Homo sapiens: one gene and its partners. The protein of the gene in region 1 interacts with the protein of each later gene in a pairwise test. Each region holds a gene or a part of one and is shown on either strand. Other genes may lie near its edges.

Region 1 (7,025 bases):
GAAGATATAGGAGGAGACATCTCGTTATATGTTGCAAAACCCAGAACTGAAAAGATGTCATTTCTCCCCAAATTCATCCAAGATTTGACGTAGTCCCAATCAAAACCCCAACAGTGTGAGACTCACAAGCTAATGCTCCACTTATATGGAAACACAAAAGGCCAAGAACACTAGGGATAAGCCTGAAAGAGAACAAATTTGAAGTACTTACACTATTAGATGTCAAGACTTATTATATACAGTTTGGTAAGTAAGACCTAAGTTACTGGCTTAGGCATAGAGAAATAAACCAATGGAATACGGTTGAGTCCAGAAAATTGCCAGATGAGGCAGCTCACACCTGCAATCCCAGCAATTTGGGAGGCCGAGGCAGGAGGATCACTTGAGCCCAGGGATTCAAGGCCAGCCTAGGCAAAACAGGGAGACTCTCATCTCTACAAAATTTAAAAAATTAGCCAGGCATGGTGGTGCACCCCTGCAGTTCCAGCTACTTGGGAGGCTGAGGTGGGAAGATCACTTGAGCCTGGGAGGCAGAGGTTGCAGTGAGCCGAAATCAACACTGCACTCCAGCCTGGGGGACAGAGAAAGACTCTGTCTCTGACTGTTTTGTTTTGTCCCCAAAACAAAACAGAAATAAACCTACACATGTGTAGACATGCAATTTATGACACTGCTGGGAGTGGAAAAGCCTTCAATAAATGGTGCTGGGGCCAGGCGCAGTGACTTACGCCTGTAATCCCAGCACTTCGGGAGGCTGAGGGGGAAGGATTGCTTGAGATCAGGAGTTCGAGACCAACAGGGTGAAACCCCGTCTCTACTAGAAATACAAAAAATTAGCCGGTTGTGGTGCCACACACCTGTAGTCCCAGCTACTCTGAAGGCTGAGGTAGGAGAATCGCTTGAATCTGGGAGGTGGAGGTTGCAGTGAGCCGAGATCACACCACTGCACTCCAGACTGGGTGACAGAAAATAATCAAAAAACAAAAAAACAGAAGAAAAGAAAAGAATCTTGACCCCCACCCCAGGTGAAATGCAAATCTAACGTAAAGGTAAAATAATAGCACTTCTACAGAGTGGTGACACCAAAAGCAAAAGCACAGTCTATAAAACGGAAAACGGAAAAACTGGACCTTGACAAGATTAAAAACTTTTGCCTTGCTAAAAACCCTGAGAGGAGGATGAAAAGACAGCTACTGAGTGAGTAAATATCCACAGACCACACACAGAACAAAGGACTGCTGTCAAGAACACACGAGTCTCAAAAAATCAGCAGTAAAAATGAAACGATCCAATTAGAAAATGGGCAGAGGATGCAAAGACACACCTCACTGAAGAGGATACACAGATGGCAAATGCGTCCGTGACAAGATGCTCAACATCACCCGCCATTCGTAAAATGCAAATTAGAGCCACAGCGAGATACCGCTGCCCACGAATCCAAACGGCAAGGATGTGAGGACAAAGGAATCTCACAGGAGCTGATGAAAACCTGTGAAATAAAACAGCCACCACTCTGGAGAGCAGTGTGGAAGTTTCTTAAACCAAAACAGCTCAACATGCAACTCCCAAACCACCCAGCAGCTGCGCTCACGGGCCTTTATCCCAGAGAAATGAAAATTTAAGTCAGGCGTGGTGGCTCACGCCTGTAATCCCAGCACTTTCGGAGGCTGGGGCAGGCGGGATCACATGAGGTCAGGAGTTCAAGACCAGCCTGGCTAACATGGCAAAACCCCATCTGTACTACAAATACAAAAATTAGCCAGGTGTGGTGGCGCGAGATCACACCACTGCACTCCAACCTGGCAACAGTGTGAGGCTCTGTCTCAAAAAATAAAAAAAATTAAGTCACACAAAAAACTACATAAATGTTCATGGCAACTTTATTCATAATAGCAAAAAACTGGGGGAAAAAACCAAATGTCTTGTAACAGGTGAAACATGATGGTCCGTCCATCCATACCATAGACGTTTCCTCCAGTCAAAGGAACACACTAGTAGTGCACACAACTGGATGGACCTCAGGACATCACGCCGACCTCAACGCCCACACCCTGCAGCACTCCATTTATGGAGCATTCTCGTAATGGTGAAACCATACAGATGGAGAACATACCAGTGGCTCTCAGGGGTTCAGGCTGGGAAAGGGAGGTGGCTGTGGCTGCAAGAGGGCAGCTCAAGAGGTCCCTATGGTGGCTGTGCTGCATCTTGGCCATGGGCTCACACAAACCCTACAGTGACAGATGCGCAGAACTAAACCACACACACACAGGTAGACACATGGAAAGCTGTGAAATCTGAATAAGGTCAATGGAGCACATTGGTGTCAACATCCCCTTGAACTGCTGTACTCCATTGACAGGTGCAACGTTACCACATGGGTACCCGGGAAGTCTACAAGGGATCTCTGAGCCATCTCTTTTCTTTTTTTATTTATTTTTCTTTATCTATTGTTTTTTTTTTTCCCGAGATGGAGTGTTGCTCTGTTGCCCGGGCTGCAGTGCAGTGGCGCAATCTCAGCTCACTGCAAGCTCTACCTCCTGGGTTCGTGCCATTCTCCTGCCTCAGCCTCCCGGGTAGCTGGGATTACAGGTGTGTGCCACCACGCCTGGCTAATTTTTTGTATTTTCAGTAGAGACACGGTTTCACCATGTCGGCCAGGCTATTCTTGAACTCCTGACCTCAAGTGATCCACCCACCTTGGCCTCCCAAAGTGCTAGAATTACAGGCATGAGCCACTGCGCCTGGCCTTTTTTTTTTTTTTTTTTTTTTTTTTTTGAGATTCTATTCTTTTTTACTGGTTCTTTTGTCAATCCTTGAGCCTGTCCCACATGTCCTCCTCACTATGGCTTCCTAAGGAGCCTCCTCTCTGGTCCCACCTCTGAGGGGGCTGACTCCTACTCACACTCTGGTCTCAGCCTCCTTTCTGGCCCCTGGCATGAGATTCTTCATTCTGCCTCGGCCTCCCGAAGTGCTGGGATGACAGGCGTGAGCCACGCACCCGGCCTCTTTCCCAGTGATCTCAGTGCTCCTCAGATTCCCCCTGCATAACACCCAGCAGCAGAACCATATGAAATTGAAACTATTCCACTATTTTTTATCTACAAACACAAATCATTATTTACCTCAGTAACAGCTGCCTGGCTAAAGCCCTGTGAGGGAGGGAAGACCCCGTGATTTGGACATTTGCACACATCATGCTTCCAGCCCGGGACAGGAGATACGCGTGGACCACACCAGGGACTGGCCCGCTAACCATGAGCTCTCACGCAATGTCTGTCAGGGGCTGGAGAATTGGGGAAGCCTCTCCCCAGAAACCAGGGGAAGCGTTGCATCTCCCTCTTCAATTTCCTTTCCCCTTGCCACCTGGCTTCAAAATAAATCGAATAAACTAACTCACAGCAAGGTGTCAAAGGCCCAGATGCCTAAATGAAAGAAGCTGGCAGCCTGAGGCATCTGCATTTGAAAAGAGACTCAACGAGAACTGAAGATAAAAGCCAGCCCTAGACCAAAAGAAAGGGAAGAGAGGGCAGGGAGGGCTCCTAGCAGCCCCTGCAAATCACACCTTTCTAGAAGCCAGGGCCACAAGCAGCCTTCCCTATGAACTGCCTCATTCAGCCTCATAGCTCTAATGGGCCATAACCCCCACGGAGTAGATGTGGCAACTAAGGTCTGTCAAGTACAATGGTGAGGAAACCAAAATCACAAAAGTGAGCTTCAGAGGGGTCGGCGCTGTAACCCAGGATTTGCTCTGACTCGGTATTCACTTCCTCACAGAGACACAGACCTTTCGGTCTAGGTGGGGCTGTGGGAAGGGGACCTGCGGACAGACGTGCCAGTGGCACAGGGCCTGGGAGTGTGGAAGGAGGCAGCACTGGGACCGTGAGGGTCCCCAGCCTTAGGACAACAGAGGTGTGGGGTCTAGACAACCAACCTAGGGCGCAGGTGACACAGTAAGCCACTGAGATGCCTGTGAGCCTGGGACAGGAGCTGGAAAGGCATTTCCAAGAAAGAGAGCTCACAGTCAGCCAGCACATTCCTAGAAGTTGGAAGGAAAGATGGTAGGAGCTGTCAGAGCAGAGAGATGAGCAGGGGAAGGTGGCCAAGGAAAAAGAAAACAGGGAAGGGCTGGGCATGGTGGCTCACGCCTATAATCCCAACATATGGGAGGCCAAAGCAGGAGGATTGCTTGAACCCAGGAGTTTGAGGCTGCAGTGATCTCTAATCACACCACTGCTCTCCAGCCTGGGCAACAGAGCAAGACTCTGTCTCAAAAAAAAAAAGAGACCGGGCGCAGTGGCTCATGCCTGTAATCCCAGCACTTTGGGAGGCCAAGGCGGGTGGATCACCTGAGGTCAAGAGTTCGAGACCAGCCTGACCAACAGGGTAAAACCCCATTTCTACTAAAAATACAAAAGCCGGTCGTGGCGGCATGCACCTGTAGTCTCAGCTACTCAGGAAGCTGAGGCACGAGAATCACTTGAATCCAGGAGGCAGAGGTTGCAGTGAGCCAAGATGGTGCCACTGCACTCCAGCCTGGGCGACAGAGCAAGACTTCGTCTCAAAAATAAATGAATAAATAAAAAGAAATAAAGAAAACAGAACGACACAACACATAGGATGACAAAGTTCAAAAAATTCACGTGATGAAGGAGACTGATGATGCATGAAACAGGAGGAAAGCCTTTGAACTTGAAGCCAGCCAAGAACATCATTTGTAGGAGGCAGGAATTGGGACACTGGACCCACAGATGAGGAAACCTACTTTACACACACTGCCTGGTTCTGTAGATAGAAAGACTGACATGTGAACATCGTTACAGAACAGAACGTAACTCTGTCAGCCACACAACATAAAAAAGAAGGCATATCCTACTTCTGGGTACATACGCAAAAGAAATGAAAGTTGGGCCGGGCGCGGTGGCTCACACCTGTAATTCCAGCACTTTGGGAGTTGAGGGGGGCGGATCACCTGAGGTCAGGAGTTCAAGACCAGCCTGGCCAAAATGGCAAAAACCCGTCTCTACTAAAAATACAAAAAAATAAGCCGGGCGCGGTGGCTCACGCCTGTAATCCCAGCACTTTGGGAGGCTGAGGCGGGTGGACCATGAGGTCAGGAGCTCAAGACCATCCTGGCCAACATGGTGAAACCCGTCTCTACTAAAATTACAAAAATCAGCTGGACGTGGTGGCGGGCGCCTGTAGTCCCAGCTACTCGGGAGGCTGAGGCAGGAGAATCGCTTGAACCCAGGAGGCAGAGGTTGCAGTGAGCCTAGATCACTGCACTCTAGCCTGGCGATAGAGTGAGACTGTCCCAAAAAAAAAAAAAAAAAAAGTTAGCTGGGCATGCTGGCATGTGCCTGTAGTCCCAGCTACTCGGGAGGTTGAGGCAGGGAGAACTGCTTAAACCCGGGAGGTTGAGGCAGGGAGAAATGCTTAAACCCGGGAGGTTGAGGCAGGGAGAACTGCTTAAACCCGGGAGGTTGAGGCAGGGAGAACTGCTTAAACCCAGGAGGTGGAGGTTGCAGTGAGCCAAGATTGTGCCACTGCACTCCAGCCTGAGCAACAGAGCAAGACTCCATCTCAAAAATAAGTAAATAAAAATAAAATAAAAAATAAGAAAACTATAAACTGGCCAGGAGCGGTGGCTCATGCCTATAATCCCAGCACTTTGGGAGGCTGAGGCAGGCAGATCACTTCAGGTAGTCTGGCCAACATGGAGAAACCCCGTCTCTACTAAAAATACAAAAATTAGCTGGGTGTGGTGGTACATGCCTACAGTCCCAGCTACTTGGGAGGCTGAGGCAGAAGAATCGCTTGAACCCGGGAGGCCAAGGCTGCAATGAGCCGAGATGACACCACTGCACTTGGCAAGACTCCATCTCAAAAAAAAAGGCGGCGGCGGCGGCGGCGGCAGCCGGGCACAGTGGCTCACACTGGTAATCCCAGCACTTTGGGAGGCCAAGGCGGGCGGATACGAGGTCAGGAGTTCGAGACCAGCCTGGCCAGCATGGTGAAACCCTGTCTCTACTAAAAATACAAAAAATTAGCAGGGCATGGTGGCAGGCGCCTGTAGTCCCAGCTACTCAGAAGGCTGAGGCAGGAGAATTGCTTGAACCTGGCAGGCGGAGGATGCGGTGAGCCAAGATCGTGCCACTGCACTCCCGCCTGGGCAACAGAGCAAGACTCTGTCTCAAAAAAACAAAAAAGAAAAAAGAAAAAGGGAATCAACTACGGATACACAAAACCACTTGAATCTCTAAAACATTGTCATCTGGCAAAATAAATCAGACACAAAAGTATTCATTCCATATGATTCCATTGATGTGAAATTATTTTATTTTTTGAGATGGAGTTTCGCTCTTTTTGCCCAGGCTAGAGTGCAATGGTGCGATCTCGGCTCACCGCAACCTCCGCCTCCCACGTTCAAGGGATTCTCCTACCTCAGCCTCCCGAGTAGCTGGAATTACAGGCATGCGCCACCATGCCTGGCTAACTTTTTGTATTTTTAGTAGAGACAGGGTTTCTCCATGGTGGTCAGGCTGGTCTCGAACTCCCAACCTCAGATGATCCACCCGCCTCAGCCTCCCAAAGTGCTGGGATTACAGGCGTGAGCCCCCACGCCCAGCCAATGTGAAATTCTTAAAAAGGGACGCCAAACCTACAGTAATAGAAAGCGATCACTATTGCCTGGGCTGGGTGTGAGGAAGGGCTTACCACAGAGGAGCACGAGAGAACTTTTGGGGGCAACGGAAATGTTTTATATTTGGATTATGACGTTGTTCACAAAACCCATCAAACAGGCCGGGCGCGGTGGTCACGCCTGTAATCCCAGCACTTTGGGAGGCCGAGGCGGGCGGATCACGAGGTCAGGAGATCGAGACCATCCTGGCTAACATGGTGAAACCCCGACTCTACTAAAAAAATACAAAAAATTAGCCGGGCGTGGTGGTGGGCGCCTGTAGTCCCAGCTACTTGGGAGGCTGAGGCAGGAGAATGGTGTGAACCCAGGAGGCGGAGCTTGCAGT
Region 2 (5,867 bases), on another chromosome or scaffold:
GACTTCTCCCGCAGCACCCAGGTAGGAGGCAAGGGCTGGCCCAGGCCCATCCTCACGCCATGCCCCAGCTCATGGCTTACATCCCCATGCCAGGCAGAGCTGGAACGGGAGCGGGCACAGCTGCTGGTCCGGGCCACGATGGCTGAAGAGCAACTTTCTGAGCTACAGGAGTACGTGGACCAGCACCTGGGCAGGTGGGCAGAGGGAGCTGGGTGTGACCCCAGGGCCCTGGTCTGGTTGGAATGAAGGATGATGGCTGCCTCAGGCGCTAAAAGCAGACCTGTCCACAGCTGGGCAAGTCACTTAAGCATGGTTCCTCTGAGCAGGTACAAGCACGAAATCCTGAGGCTGAGGAAGCTGGCAGGTGCAGGGGACCCCTGGAAAGTGGGGGCTGTGCCTCCAGCCAAGCCCCAGCATCCAAGGACCGGCAGCCACTAGGCCGTCTCCCAAGGAGCAGAGCAGAGCAGAGCTCCTCAGCCAGCACAGAACCCTCCCACCCAGCCCCCCATAAAACATGAGTCAGGATAGAACCCACAGAGTCTTTATCGTGTCTAATACTCAGCTGGCCTGAGAAATAAGGCCCCCCGGGATGGGGGCAGAACTAGGTCCGGGGGCAGCCTGGATGGGTATCCGCGAGGAGGCGGCCTCCCCAGCCTGCCCACCCTCAGGAACATCATAAGCCCATACTCGGTCCAGGCCCTCGCCAACCGCGGTCACAGGCTGCCAGGTGGGGAGTGGGAAGCGCCCAGACACCACGCGGGCCCCAGCAGGCAGCTCTGTCCGCAGCTTGTCCTCCAGCAGCGGGAGCTGAGGGAGAGAACAGCAGAGTAGAGGGGGCGGGGGCGGGGCCGGTAGAAAACAGCCGCGCTCACCCCCCTAGCCCCAAGCCTAGCACCCACCAGGCAGGCCCAGGCCTCAGAGCAGCAAACACCCTGGGGTGTGGCTGGGGCTTCCCAGCGGGGCTGGCAACCCCGCACCTACCACGCTAGGGGCCAGGAACACAGACACGTTGCGGCAGTCCCTCAGGCTCACCTGCCGGAAGAGAAGTCGCCCCGGCCGGGGAGAGGCCTGGTGGGCACCGGGTCATCGCAGCTTCCGAGTCCCGGCCCCCAGCCCTCGCAGGTGTCAGCCGCACCTTGGGCTGTCAGCGGGTGGCCAGGGATCCCCAGGTTACCTTCCAGAGATCCTTGCGGCGATAGCAGACGCTGCCGGCACAGCCGGCCCTCCAGGCGTGCAGCCGCGCCAGCGCCACCAGCCAGGGGTTCAGCTCGTAGCCCACGGCCGGGCGGAGGCCGCACCTGTGGGCCGCCAGCACCTGTGGGCACCGAGAGTGTGGGAACCAGGATGTGGGCAGGGGCGCCCGCCAGCAGGTGGGCGGTGTGGGGCGGCGAAGACCCAGACGCAGGCACTTACGATCCTGCCGTCGCCAGAGCCCAGATCCACCGTTTTTCCGGGGCGTCCTCGCAGCAGCGACAACACGTGCTCCACCTGCCGCGCGCTCGCGCCGACGTAGGGCACCTGGACCGGGTGGCGGCGAGAGTCCACTGGCCGCTCCCGCCCCGCCCGCAGCCCGGCCCGAACTACCACACGGCGGGGCGGAGCTCACCCCGGCCACGCCCAGACCTTGAGACCCTGAGCGGCAGCCGAGCTCCCCTGCCCGGCCTGGCCCCGCCCCGCACCTGCAGCCGCAGCGGCACGCGCCGGAAGCCGGGCTGGAGCAGCAGCGCCCACACCGCGTAGGCTGCCAAGCCCGAGCCGGCCGCCGCCTGCAGCAGCTCCAGCGCGCCCAGCCGCCGCTCGCGCAGCTCCGTCAGCGCCTCGACCGGGTCGTCCTGCTCCATGGCTGCGGGACGCGCGGCTCGTCCGCCCAAGGTCCTTCCCGGCTCGGGTCCGCGGCCCTCGCAGCCTGGCCTGGGGCTGGCGGTGTGCCCTCTGCCTCCTGCCGGGAGCCGCCGCGCGACACCGGAAGTGGCCGGCAGAGCCTGCGCGGTCGGTCCGTGGCGCTGTGCGCTCCGCCCAGCCCGGCTGCCCTCCCGCGGGTTCCGGCGAGCTGCAGCCTCGGGGGCTCTGCCCCGCCGCGTCCGGCTCCAAGCCTGCGAGGGTCGGCTCCGTTGGTCCGCTCTGCGGACCGCCGTTTGCGGCCTGTGCTGGCTGCTGGCGACCCGCGGAAGGGGACAGGCAGGCCCTGCCCTGGGGGAGCGCACGTGCCGGCGGGAGTCGGGATACACCCGGCGATCTCACGGGCTAGAGCCCCAGGGAAACGGGGCTGCGCGTCTTTGTCGTGGAATGAAGGGAAGTCTGCCTTGGAGAGGGGCGGTCCTGGCCCCAGAACCAGCCGGGGGCTCGCGTGGGGCGGCTGGAGCCCAGGGAGCCGGTGGGAAAGCGGCTCCCCGGGATGAGACAGCGTCCAGGCGCCAGCACCCCCATGACTCTGCCTCGGGGAGACTGCTGGGGGCGCTCCGCTGACTCGGACACCCAGCGCCAGCCAGAGCCCGGGAGGACATCCTTCCATTTCCCTCCTACAGCCTGAGCGATGAGCCCCAGTGGGCGGTGAAGGGATGGGGGGTGGGGTCTGAGGGAGAAGGGCATGGAGGAGGGGCTGACACGGAGGAGAGCTTGAGCAGGCCCAAGAAGACAGATGCTGGCTCTCAGGCGAGTGTGGTGGGAGGAAAGCCGGATGTCACAGGCGGGGGCCTCTGGCACCTGCCAGCTACAGGGAAGGCAGACAGCCCCGGGAGTGGGGAGATCACCTTCCTTCTCCAGAAAACAACACACAAAAAGACTGAGTTCCTGGAGGTGACCTTGTGAAGCTGGGGGTGGGAAGCGCAAGTGGAAGAGCCGAGCTCTGGGTCAGGCAGCTGGGCCACGACCTCCACACCCAGGGTAGGGCTGAACACCCGTGAATGTCGGGGGTTGTCTATGCGTGCCCTGGCCTAGCTCCTCCTTAGCCATCCGTGGCTGGGGTCTAGAGCCCCTGCAGGGACAGAGGCTGCTTCCAGACATGGGTATGCCGCAGACCACAGCCCCCAGCTCCCAAGTGCAGAGTCTCACAGGCCTGCCCACGTTGGCCCCAGCCCCACCCAGCTCAGCGTGTCCTGTCTCCTGGGGGCCTGGAACGGCCCTCCCAGGAAAGGAAGGGTGTATGTACACTGAGCTCTAGGGGGAGCTGACAGCGCCCATTCCTGTCCTGCTGCCTGCATTATTCCCTGCACCTAGAGCAGTTACCTAGGAGGCTTACTGGATGAATGCACCTAATTGGACTCTAGCGTGCACTCTCCACTCTTCTTTTTTTTTTTTTTTTTTTTTTTTTTTTTTTTTTGAGACTTGAGTCTCGCTCTTTCGCCCAGGTTGGAGTGCAGTGGCGCAGTCTTGGCTCACTGCAACCTCTGCCTTCCAGGTTCAAGTGATTCCTCTGCCTCAGCCTTTTGAGTAGCTGGGATTACAGATGCATGCCACCATGTCTGGCTAATTTTTTGTGTTTTATTAGAGACGGTTTCACCATGTTGGCCAGGATGGTCTCCATCTCCTGACCTCATGATCTGCTTGCCTGGGCCTCCCAAAGTGTTGGGATTACAGGCGTGAGCCACTGCGCCCAACCTCCCCACTCCTCTCCCGTCCACACCAGGCACTCTGCTGCTTGGCCTTTGGGCACTCTGCAGCCACCTGTACCTGTGTGAACTGGCACTTGCCTGGCGGTGTCTGTGATCCACAGGCCCCAGGCTCCTGTAGCTCCTGCCCACCTGCTCACCCACACTGTCTCCCTATCTCCCATGCCACTTTGGCCACCTGTCCCCAGGGCAGGCATGAAGCCCCTGGTCTAATGCTCCAAGACCCATTTGGGCACCGTGGTGCTCCTGTGGCCCTGTGTCTCATGAGAAGACAGCTGGTTGCAAAGCCAGGGCTTTCTCTGGGAGGGTCTGTAGGTGCAAGGCTCAGGCACTTCCTGAGACAGGTAGGTAGAAGCCAGGGTTCGGCCAGGGCCCAGCCCAGGGTGTTTGTGAACAGGTGGACTTGGGTGTGGCTGAAAAGGAGAGGTTGTAGGAAGCTGGCCAGAGAATCAGGGCAAGTGCCAAAGGTAAGGGGGTTGCTCGGCCCACGGGAAAGCCTCTCCAAGACAGGAGTGGAGGAGGCGGTGCAGGAGGGCACACGGGCTACCTCCTTTTCTAGTGTTTGCAGAAGTGTTTGGGCTGGGGGCAGATGGATGTAAGGCTATGGGCCCCAGGGAGTGGTCAGGGCTGAAGATGAAAAAGTGGAGGTTGTCCAAGGGTTATTGGAGGCTGCCCCAGAGGAGCGGTCCTGTGCCTGAGCCCTCAGCGTGCCACAGTTGGGAGAGGAGAGAAGCAGCAAGGAACCTGAGGAGGGGCAGAAGGTGGGAGAACCCCCACAGTGCATGACACCCAGTGGCTGCGCTCCTCACCCATCCTCATCAGCCCTGCGGCAGGCAGGTGATCTGTGTGAAAGGGTAAGTCTCTTGCACGTGCAGTGGAAGTCCCAGGGCGGCGCTGGAGGTGACCCCCCTCCCCAGGTGTCCACAGAGGGCATGGCACTCATCAGGCATCTGCATCCGCTAACCTAGAGAAAGGACCGTGTTTGTGGGCCCTGCACAGCTGTGTCCCTCACACAGCCTCAGTTTCCCCCTTGAAAGCTGGGGGCTTCATCTGCCTGGGCAGGGCCTCTGGCCTCCACCCCCACCCCGGCCCAGGCGAGAATGGAAAGCCATTTCTGGGGCTCAGCCCAGGGGTCCCTGGCCCTTGAGCCATGGCTGTCTCTTTCCCAGGATCCGAGGGGTTGGGGTGAGAGGAGGCAGCTCACACAGGGCCAGGTGTCCTGGAACACCCCCACCCAGGGGCTTTTAGCCTCGGAGCCTTGGGCTGTGGCTGTCCCAAACCTCACTGGCCCTTTATGCGGCTGAAAGGCCGAGGAGGAAGGCGGAGACAGTGACAATGGGGCCAGTGGCGGGAAACGGTCCTTAGAGACCCCATTGTGCACCCCGCCCGCCGGAAACAGGCAACAAGCAGGACCCTGCAGAGGGGACCCCACACCCTTCGGGCTCCTCGCCACGTCTGGATGCTCAGCACGTCGAAGGGGCCTGAGGACAGAGGGGCCCATTCTTCCCCAAGGGCGGGACGGGGCCAAGGATGACTCTGCGGGCTCACAGCAGCCATGGGGGAAGTCGGCACCCTGCCAGCCTGCAGCCCCTTCCCTCACAGGCCTGGCTCAGAGCCGGAGCGCTGTGCGCCCGCCTGCCCCCACCGTACCCGAGGGACCCTATGCCCCTCTGCCCCTTTCCTCTCCTGCTGAGCCCCAGAAGCACCTGGCACGGGAGGCAAGTGGGAGCCAGCCAGGGAAGCAGGCAAGGGTGCGGGCAAGGACGGGGCTGGTGGGTGCAGCAGAGCAGAAGCTTGCATGAGTGCAGGTCCCCACGTGCCCCCCACCCAGCAGCGGCCCCTCCCCGGAATGTGGGTGTAGCTCCTCCTGACATCTGCTCTCCCTCTCAGTTGCCAAATGGTCTTGAACAAGATACCATTCCCCTGAGCCTCAGTCTCCCGCCAGGAGGCAGGAATTGGAGCCATCCTCACAGCTGCGAGGCAGGCCCAAGGCTGGGCTGGACACAGGAGACCAGGTCCACAGCAGCTTGCGTGAACAGAGTTCTTATTGATAGTCCCATCACCTCCAAAGCAGTGGGCCCACCCTCCCTCCTACCAGCCCCTCCCCAGCACCCAGCCCCTCAGTGCAGCGCCACCTCGCAGGGGTGGAGGTGGGCAGCACGGGCAGCCTCGTAGGCACGGCGGAACTCCTGGAATCGTGGGGCACAGCCCAGCCGGGCCTCCCCAAAGCGGCTCCAGCCCATGAAGAGGAAGGTGCCT
Region 3 (7,025 bases), on another chromosome or scaffold:
CAGGAAGAGCATCTTAAAGCTCCCGCTAAAGAATTTTCCTTGGTTCTCTGAGTGACTGGTGTGCCTTTGGGAGGGGTCCTTGTGTCCCAAGTCACAGTGCGCCCCTGCCCCCAGTCCCTTGCCACCCCCACCTTGCATGTTGTAATCAAAGGTGAGCTCCTCGCCTGCCCGGATGGTTCTTGTGGCAAAGAAAGCGATGCGGGGCAGCCGCTCGTCAAGGTTGTCTATGAAGACGTTGTACACCTGCAGGTTGGGGTCACACTGGGCGAGAAAGAACAGTTGGGAGAGTGAGGAGGGGCTCCAGCCTGCCCCTCTCGACCCCTTGCCCGCCTGCCGGGGGTACCCACACTGTGGTTGACAAAGTGGGAGATGTTGCCATAGTAGGCGGCATCCACGGTGTACACGTCCTCCACGTAGTCCAGGTCAAAGAGGTAGGTGGCGCCCTGACGGTCGTAGATCTGGCCCCGCCGCTCTGCCTCCTCTGAGGTAATGATCTAGGGAAAGGGCCATGGGTAAGGGGAGATTGGCCGCGAAGTCTCAGGAAAGCCGGCACTGCTCCTGACTTCTGAAGGACAGGGAGCAGGAGGCACCCCTGCCCGTGGACACACATGGGCAGTGACGCAGAGAGTCTGTCGGCCCTTCCTGAGGAGCTGGGCCTCAGCTGGCAACTGCCTGGCCCGCCTCAGGCCTCTGGCTAGCAGGAGGAGTCCCTGGCGGTGAGTGCAGGCTGGCCTGGCTGCAGGGCCCAACTGGGGCCACGCGAGCACCTCCTGCCGCCACCCAGCAAGAGCTGCCCAAGAACCCCTGGAGCCTCCAGTGCCTTGGGACGGAGCAGGAAGGTGATCAGGAGAGACCAAAGCAAGGGCAAGAAAGAAAGTGACCCAGGGTGCCACAGGGAGAGATACTTACTGATCCAGGCAAGGGAGCCTGAGCCCATGCAGGACCCAGCAGGGAGGGCGTGGAGAGAGGGGAAGAAGAGACCCAGGCCATGGGGAAAGGGGGCAAGGGCCTCAAGACAAGAGAGGTGGAGGCAGAGGCAGAGGGAGGCCCAGGTTCAGAGAGCCAGAAAGAGGCTGAGGCCACACACTTCAGAGACAGCAGCAGAGGAGGAGGAAAGATGAAGGGAGAGCACAGTGAGAGAAGCTCTCCCTCGGCCCAGGGCTGCGCAGTGCCAACTGGTGCTTCAGACGGCAGTGGGTGCCTCCTCCCCAGCTGGTTCCCTACCTGTCCTAGGAAATGGGAAGCTTTGCTGCCATCCTAGCCCCAGCCTGTCCTTGCCTCCCAATCCACGCCAACAAATCTCCGGCCCCATGGCCCCTCTTCCCTGAGGCCAGCAACGGCAGCCTCCTGCCAATCCCCAAGCGTAGCTGACCAGGCCCTTCCCTGGGTAGGGGTCCCACTGTACCTCAGCCAAGAACAGTGCACAGCACACAGGAGACACATGGGGACTGCTGTTTACTTTGATTCTGCTTCCTGGCTTAGCAGCCTGTCCTCTGTCCAAGTGGCGGCCCTCCAGGTAGCTCCAGTACTCCCCCGCCACACTTCTTCCTTCCCCTCCCTTCTCCAGAGACCCCTCTCGGGCTTCCTTCCTTGCTCACCCTCATGTGGGCCGGTGACCATGCCCTTCTGACTTGGGAATCCATCTCCTTAGCTAGGATGGCCACACTGGTGTTCTCCCTGGCTGTCCCCTCAAGGCTGTGTTCCATGCCAAAGGCTGACTAACAATGCCTTGAGGAAACCAAGATTTACCCTGCCTCGGGCCACACTACCCACTGCCCCGTGCTCCAGTTCTGTTCCTTGAGGAACCTGGCTCCCTTGCCAGGGTTTTTATTGAGGCCTTCCTTGTGCCCAGTCCCAGCATGCAGGGCTCACGGTCTGATCAGGGAGACACAGGGACCAGGCCCGGTCCACTCTCAGGGGTCACAGGTGGGTAGGGGATACACAGGAACCAGGATTGGTCCCTGCCCTCAAGGGGTCAAAGTCTGGTCACAGAGAGACAGATTCACACACCCACAGTGTAAGACTGTGATCAGGAAACAGTGCTTAGGGCTTGAGGGGGAATGGAGAAGAGACGGATTCTCTAAAACGAGTTGCAGATCATAAAAGGGCTTTACCACCTGGTGGAAGAGTGGGGACTCTCTCCTAAGGGCCACAACATGAGGGTGGAATATGTCAAGATCAGTCTCCCTTCACCTCCTGGAGAACAGTCTTCCTTGTGGCATCAGCTCAAACAGATGGGACCTCTCTAGGCAGCCTTCCAAGCTTCCCGTTCCTCCCCTACCTCAGAAGCTGGCCACTTGTCTGATCAAGTCCTGGGATCAAAGGGCAGCCTCTCCCAGGCTCACAGGCCTAGTGGGTGGGGTATGAGCCATCTTTTTCACCGTAGGCCCTCCTTGAGCCAGGAGGAGTGCCCACATCCTTCCTAGTCTCCATCTTCATGCCTATTCTGCCACTACCTGCTCTCCCAGTCTCACCAGGAGTGAGTCATACTGCAGGCCCTCCAGGGCACAAACACTTCTTGGTTCCTTCTCATCTTCTTTTCAGTCCCATTCTCTAATGATTGGTCAACCCTGAAAGCTTGGGAACAGATGGGCCTGTCTCTGCTCCCTAACAGCTCTCCAGAATGAATGGAAAAGACAGGCTGTAAGCTGGCAGTTCCGAGAGGGTGCTGACGTGAATGGGAACTAGAAGACTTGGAGTCAGCTGCTGCTCTGCCCCCTCCTGGATATGGGATCCTGAATGTTCTCTCTGTGCCTGTTTCCTCAGCTAAAAAAAAAAAAAAAAAGCTACAGCCTGGCAGGGTACCAGTTTTAGATATTATTTGGGCCTTTATTTTTTTATCCATTGTACTACTTTTGTGATTTTAATCAAGTTATTCTACCTCTCTGGGCCTCAGTTTTCTCATCTGCAGAATGGGAATGACAGTGACAAAATCCCAACCTGACAGGGGCTGTTGTAAAGATCCATACAAGATCATGGACGTGAAAGGTGTTCCTGTTTCTGATAGGAGAGTGAGCAATGTTAGGAGTGGTTATGAGGACCAGTTATAAATGTAAGGCACACCCTTAATTTTATGTGCCCTTTACCAAGAAAGGAAAAACTGCTGTTAATTATAAATGATACACCATGATTTAATTAAGACATCTTCATTTCCGAGATGTTAAAATAGGAAGAAAATGCATGTTTTAGAATGGATAAAATAGGCTGGCATTGTCTCTTGGGTGAGGATGGGAATGTTCTGCAGGAACGTGAAAGTTCTGACCCAATGTGGGAGGCTGCAAAGGAGGGAAGGGCAGCTCCCGTGGAGGGAGCTCTTGGTACAGACTGTCAGTACATGTCCCAGCTGAAGAAGGACAGTAGATAGCATGGTGTGCAGATAGGCCCTTGATTCCGTAACACCCTGGCAGCATCTGGGACGGCACTACAGAATCAAGTAAATTAGAACTGCTGCAACGAAATGTATGACTATTACCCCAAGTAGGATAAATAAAAACTACAAATAGGACCCTATCCGGTCAGGCTGGGTCCTGTAGCCAGATGGGTTACAAAAAAACTTGGTCTTCCAGACATTTTGGATTTGCTGAAGTTTGAACTATGCTGATAACATTTGTATCAAACTTACTGTGTACTGAACACTGTTCAAGTGCTTTTTCCAAGTGCTTGATACATAGTAACTCATTTAATTTTTGTAACAAGCCTGTGAGGTGAGTGCTATTATTGTTCCCATTTTACATAGTAAATGCAGGCACAGAGGTTAGTGATTGCTGATGAGTAGTGGAGCTGGGATTCAGCCTCGGGCAGTCAGGATCCAGAGTCCACCCTCCTAACCATTTGCTATACTGTCTCTTCAGAGGGGAATGCGGGAAGATGAGTTTGGCTCTTTCCGGAGGCCTGTGGCACCATCAGGAGGACCCATGGGTCTGAGGGTGCTGGAGGGCGGTCAGGAAATAGTGCAGCAAGAATGTGTGGAGAGCAGGAAGGGTGAGGACAGGGCTGAGAGGATCCCTGGGAGGATTAAAGACACTGACACTAAGGAAGAGCAGCCAGAAAAGTCTCAGGCCCAGGAGGGTCTGAGGCTGCCCTTGGGGTGTAGTCTTCCTCCTCGACTGTCAGGACCCTGTGTGGTAGACAGTGTTTCCTCCAGATGCCAGTACAGTGAGGCTGAGATACTTCCTGCTCTGTGCAGCCCCTAGGACGGTGGACTGTCTGGGTCCTATGGGGTCTGGACATCTCCTCCAGAGAGTTTGGGTTCCTTCAACCTCTGGACACTTCCTCCAGAGCGTCAGGACATTGAGGGCATGGACACTTCCCCCGATACTGTCAGGGTGCCCTTGGGTGTAGACTAGATCTCCAGGCTGTCCGGATCCCTCTGGGGTGAGGACACTTCTTTTTCCTGTCATGACAACATGGGTGTGAACACTTCCTAAGTCAGACCACCAGGTCCTCTAGAGTGTGGAGAGCACAAGCTCTTCCTCCAGGTCACTGGGGTCACTGTGGGACATGGACTTCCTGCAGATTATCAGGACTCCTTCCCCCGCCCACTGTCAGGAGCCCTCAGGGTGTGGACACCTCCCCACCTCCTCCTTCCAGATGGCCAGGTCCTGTGGCATGTAGACATCTCCTCCAGCAGGCCAGCAGGGTTATCTGGACAGGGTGTGGCTGTCTCCTTGCCCAGACTGTCAGGGTCCTCTGTGGTGTAGATTGTTCTACCCAAGATTGTCTCTGTCCCTGTCAGATGTGACCCTCTGTACAGTTTCTCAGAGTAGGAGCCTCTCCTTGTCATCAGTATCAGTGCTACAGTGTGGACACCCTCATGTGAGTGTTCCTCAGGCCAGTTTCTGTCACTTTCCAACTATATCACACCCCTAAGGGACCTATGGCTATATATAGAGGTATCTGGGGTTGTCACTATGACAGGGCACACTCATGGATTTAAATGGTCAAGGTCCAGGGATGCTAAATGTCCCCCAATGCATGAGACAGTTCTACATAACGAAAAATCATCTCATCCCAAATGCTAACTGCATCCCATCTTAGAATGCGACATTTTTCTGTTGTAGATACTTGCTAGTTATCTAGTTGCTAGTTATGGCTGTGCTTTAGCCTTGTGCAGCTGGGCACATGGCTAAAGCACATCCTGTTGCCTCTCTTGCATGGAGGTAAGGCCAGTGACTCAGTTCCAGCCAGTGGAGCATGGGCAGAAGTGATGGGTGCTGCATCTAGGCCTGGCCCACTAGGATGGGCCCCTTCTATCCCCCACTTGGCCCGCCTGCCAGGCAATGCTGAGGATCTGGTAGTGACTCCAAGGCTTCAAGGCACAGCAAAGGCACAGGAGGGAAAGAGCCTAGGTGTCCCAGTTGCTGTGTGAAAGGATACCCACTCAAACCCCCACAATGGACTGTTCCATGAGCAAGCAAACTTGTAATGTGCAAAGTCACTAAGATGAGGGGGTTGTTTTTACAATGGCTGGCTTGCCTAATACACTCGGCCTTCCCCAGTGTCCTGAAAGTCTAAAGGAGTTAGCCAACCTTTGTCCAAGGCATGTCTCATCCTACTCCAGACTGCGTTCCTTCTGTGCAGACTGGTAAAACAATGCTCCTCAGGCAGATACTGCTTGGTGATAAGATGGGCCCTTGTGAAATGAGAAGAGGAAGTGCCTTTCCAGCTGATGCAGCCCTATGCCAGACCACATGGCCTGTTACAAGGAATGCTAAGGCTGCCTGGATCTCAGCTCCCACTTTTCTTCTTTGCTAAGTACCCTGATAAAGTCAACCCAGTGCAGAAGTATTTTGGTGTTCCTGTAACCACCAGCATGGCCATGCTGGTGTGTACCAGCTTGGAATACTAGCCCCTGCCCAATGTCCCTGTGACACTCAGATCAGTCTCCCAGGCCTTTCCCATAGGGAAAGCAGGGAGTTTCAGACACACAGTGAGGAGAGCCGGGTGCACACTGTGAACACAGGGTGGGAAGAGCTGCACACACACACCGGGTCCCATCTCCCTACCTCTCCCACGTACTCCATGACGAAGCTGTTCTTGCGAATCTTCTCCAGGGTGCGGACGCCCCAGCCACGCCCATCATCCGTGCGGAAGATGCAGAGGTCATATCGGATACCCTTCTGTACCACACGATTTGGGCAGTCATAGCCGCAGCGGCAGCGGGAGTTGCACTCGTAGATGGGCAGCCCGGCTCGAAGCCGCACCTGGCCCTGGTCATTGTAGGCAAACTTGTGCAGTGACGCCCCCGGGCAGCAGCCTCCAGTGGGTGCCCACAGACAGTCCTGGCACTCGCAGCCCACAGCCACCTGGTTGAGGGTGATGCCCTCACCAACACGGTACTCATTGATGTACACGAAGGCCCGCGGAGGGCCGTCCAGGTCCACCTCATTCTCTACAGTGATGCGTCCCAGATGGCTGCGCTTGGCATTGAGCTCCTGCTCCCAGCGACGGAGCGCCCGCCTCTGCTTGGCCTTCTGCACCAGGTAGTTGGCCAAGCTTGGGTCCAGGTGCCGGGGGGTCTTTGACCGGTGGTGCCGCCGGAGCAGCTCCCTTTCTAAGTCCTTGTGGAACTGCTTGAGGATACGCACACACTTGAGATTCTGCCGTGGCTCCCAGGTGCTCTCTGAGTCTGGATATCCACGCCATTTCACCAGGTAATATTCCTGTTCCTGTTGGGGGTGGGTAGGGGGACGGGGGTACCGTAAGTAGTGAGATCTTTGGGCCAGCCTTCATGGGGCTTCCATCCCAAAGCTGATGGATAACACCTACCCCACCCCACCCCTTTTCTGGAATGACTTCATGCGGTGATTAAAAAGCATGGGCTCTAGAGTGAGGATTACTAGGTTCAAATCCTCCTCTCCCCCTTACTGTCTGTCCAAACTGTTCCAACTTTTAATTAATCTCCCAAACCCACTCCTCTCCTTGGTCTTCCCCATCATCAGCTCCCTCCCTTCTAGCTGTTCAGACCGGAACTCCTGGAGTCATCCTTGACTTCTCTTTTGTTCACACTTCCGACACCCACCCTC

Evidence for each region.
Region 2: the proteins of PPP1R16A (region 1) and ANTKMT interact in binary tests that used the Homo sapiens proteins (3 or more experiments, as listed by UniProt).
Region 3: the proteins of PPP1R16A (region 1) and SUV39H1 interact in binary tests that used the Homo sapiens proteins (3 or more experiments, as listed by UniProt).

The regions. Positions count from the first base shown.
Region 1 is NC_000008.11:144,480,963-144,487,987, reverse strand, and holds part of PPP1R16A (protein phosphatase 1 regulatory subunit 16A), read right to left. Parts: intron 1-7,025. UniProt on the Homo sapiens protein: Inhibits protein phosphatase 1 activity toward phosphorylase, myosin light chain and myosin substrates.
Region 2 is NC_000016.10:717,249-723,115, reverse strand, and holds ANTKMT (adenine nucleotide translocase lysine N-methyltransferase), read right to left. Parts: upstream 1,971-5,867; 5' UTR 1,842-1,970; coding exon 1,680-1,841; intron 1,519-1,679; coding exon 1,414-1,518; intron 1,316-1,413; coding exon 1,175-1,315; intron 1,033-1,174; coding exon 982-1,032; intron 808-981; coding exon 559-807; 3' UTR 526-558; downstream 1-525. Other genes in the region: CCDC78 (coiled-coil domain-containing protein 78), read left to right, coding at 1-194, 327-438; METRN (meteorin precursor), read right to left, coding at 5,729-5,867.
Region 3 is NC_000023.11:48,699,734-48,706,758, reverse strand, and holds part of SUV39H1 (histone-lysine N-methyltransferase SUV39H1), read right to left. Parts: intron 6,669-7,025; coding exon 6,006-6,668; intron 495-6,005; coding exon 348-494; intron 262-347; coding exon 132-261; intron 1-131. UniProt on the Homo sapiens protein: Histone methyltransferase that specifically trimethylates 'Lys-9' of histone H3 using monomethylated H3 'Lys-9' as substrate. Also weakly methylates histone H1 (in vitro).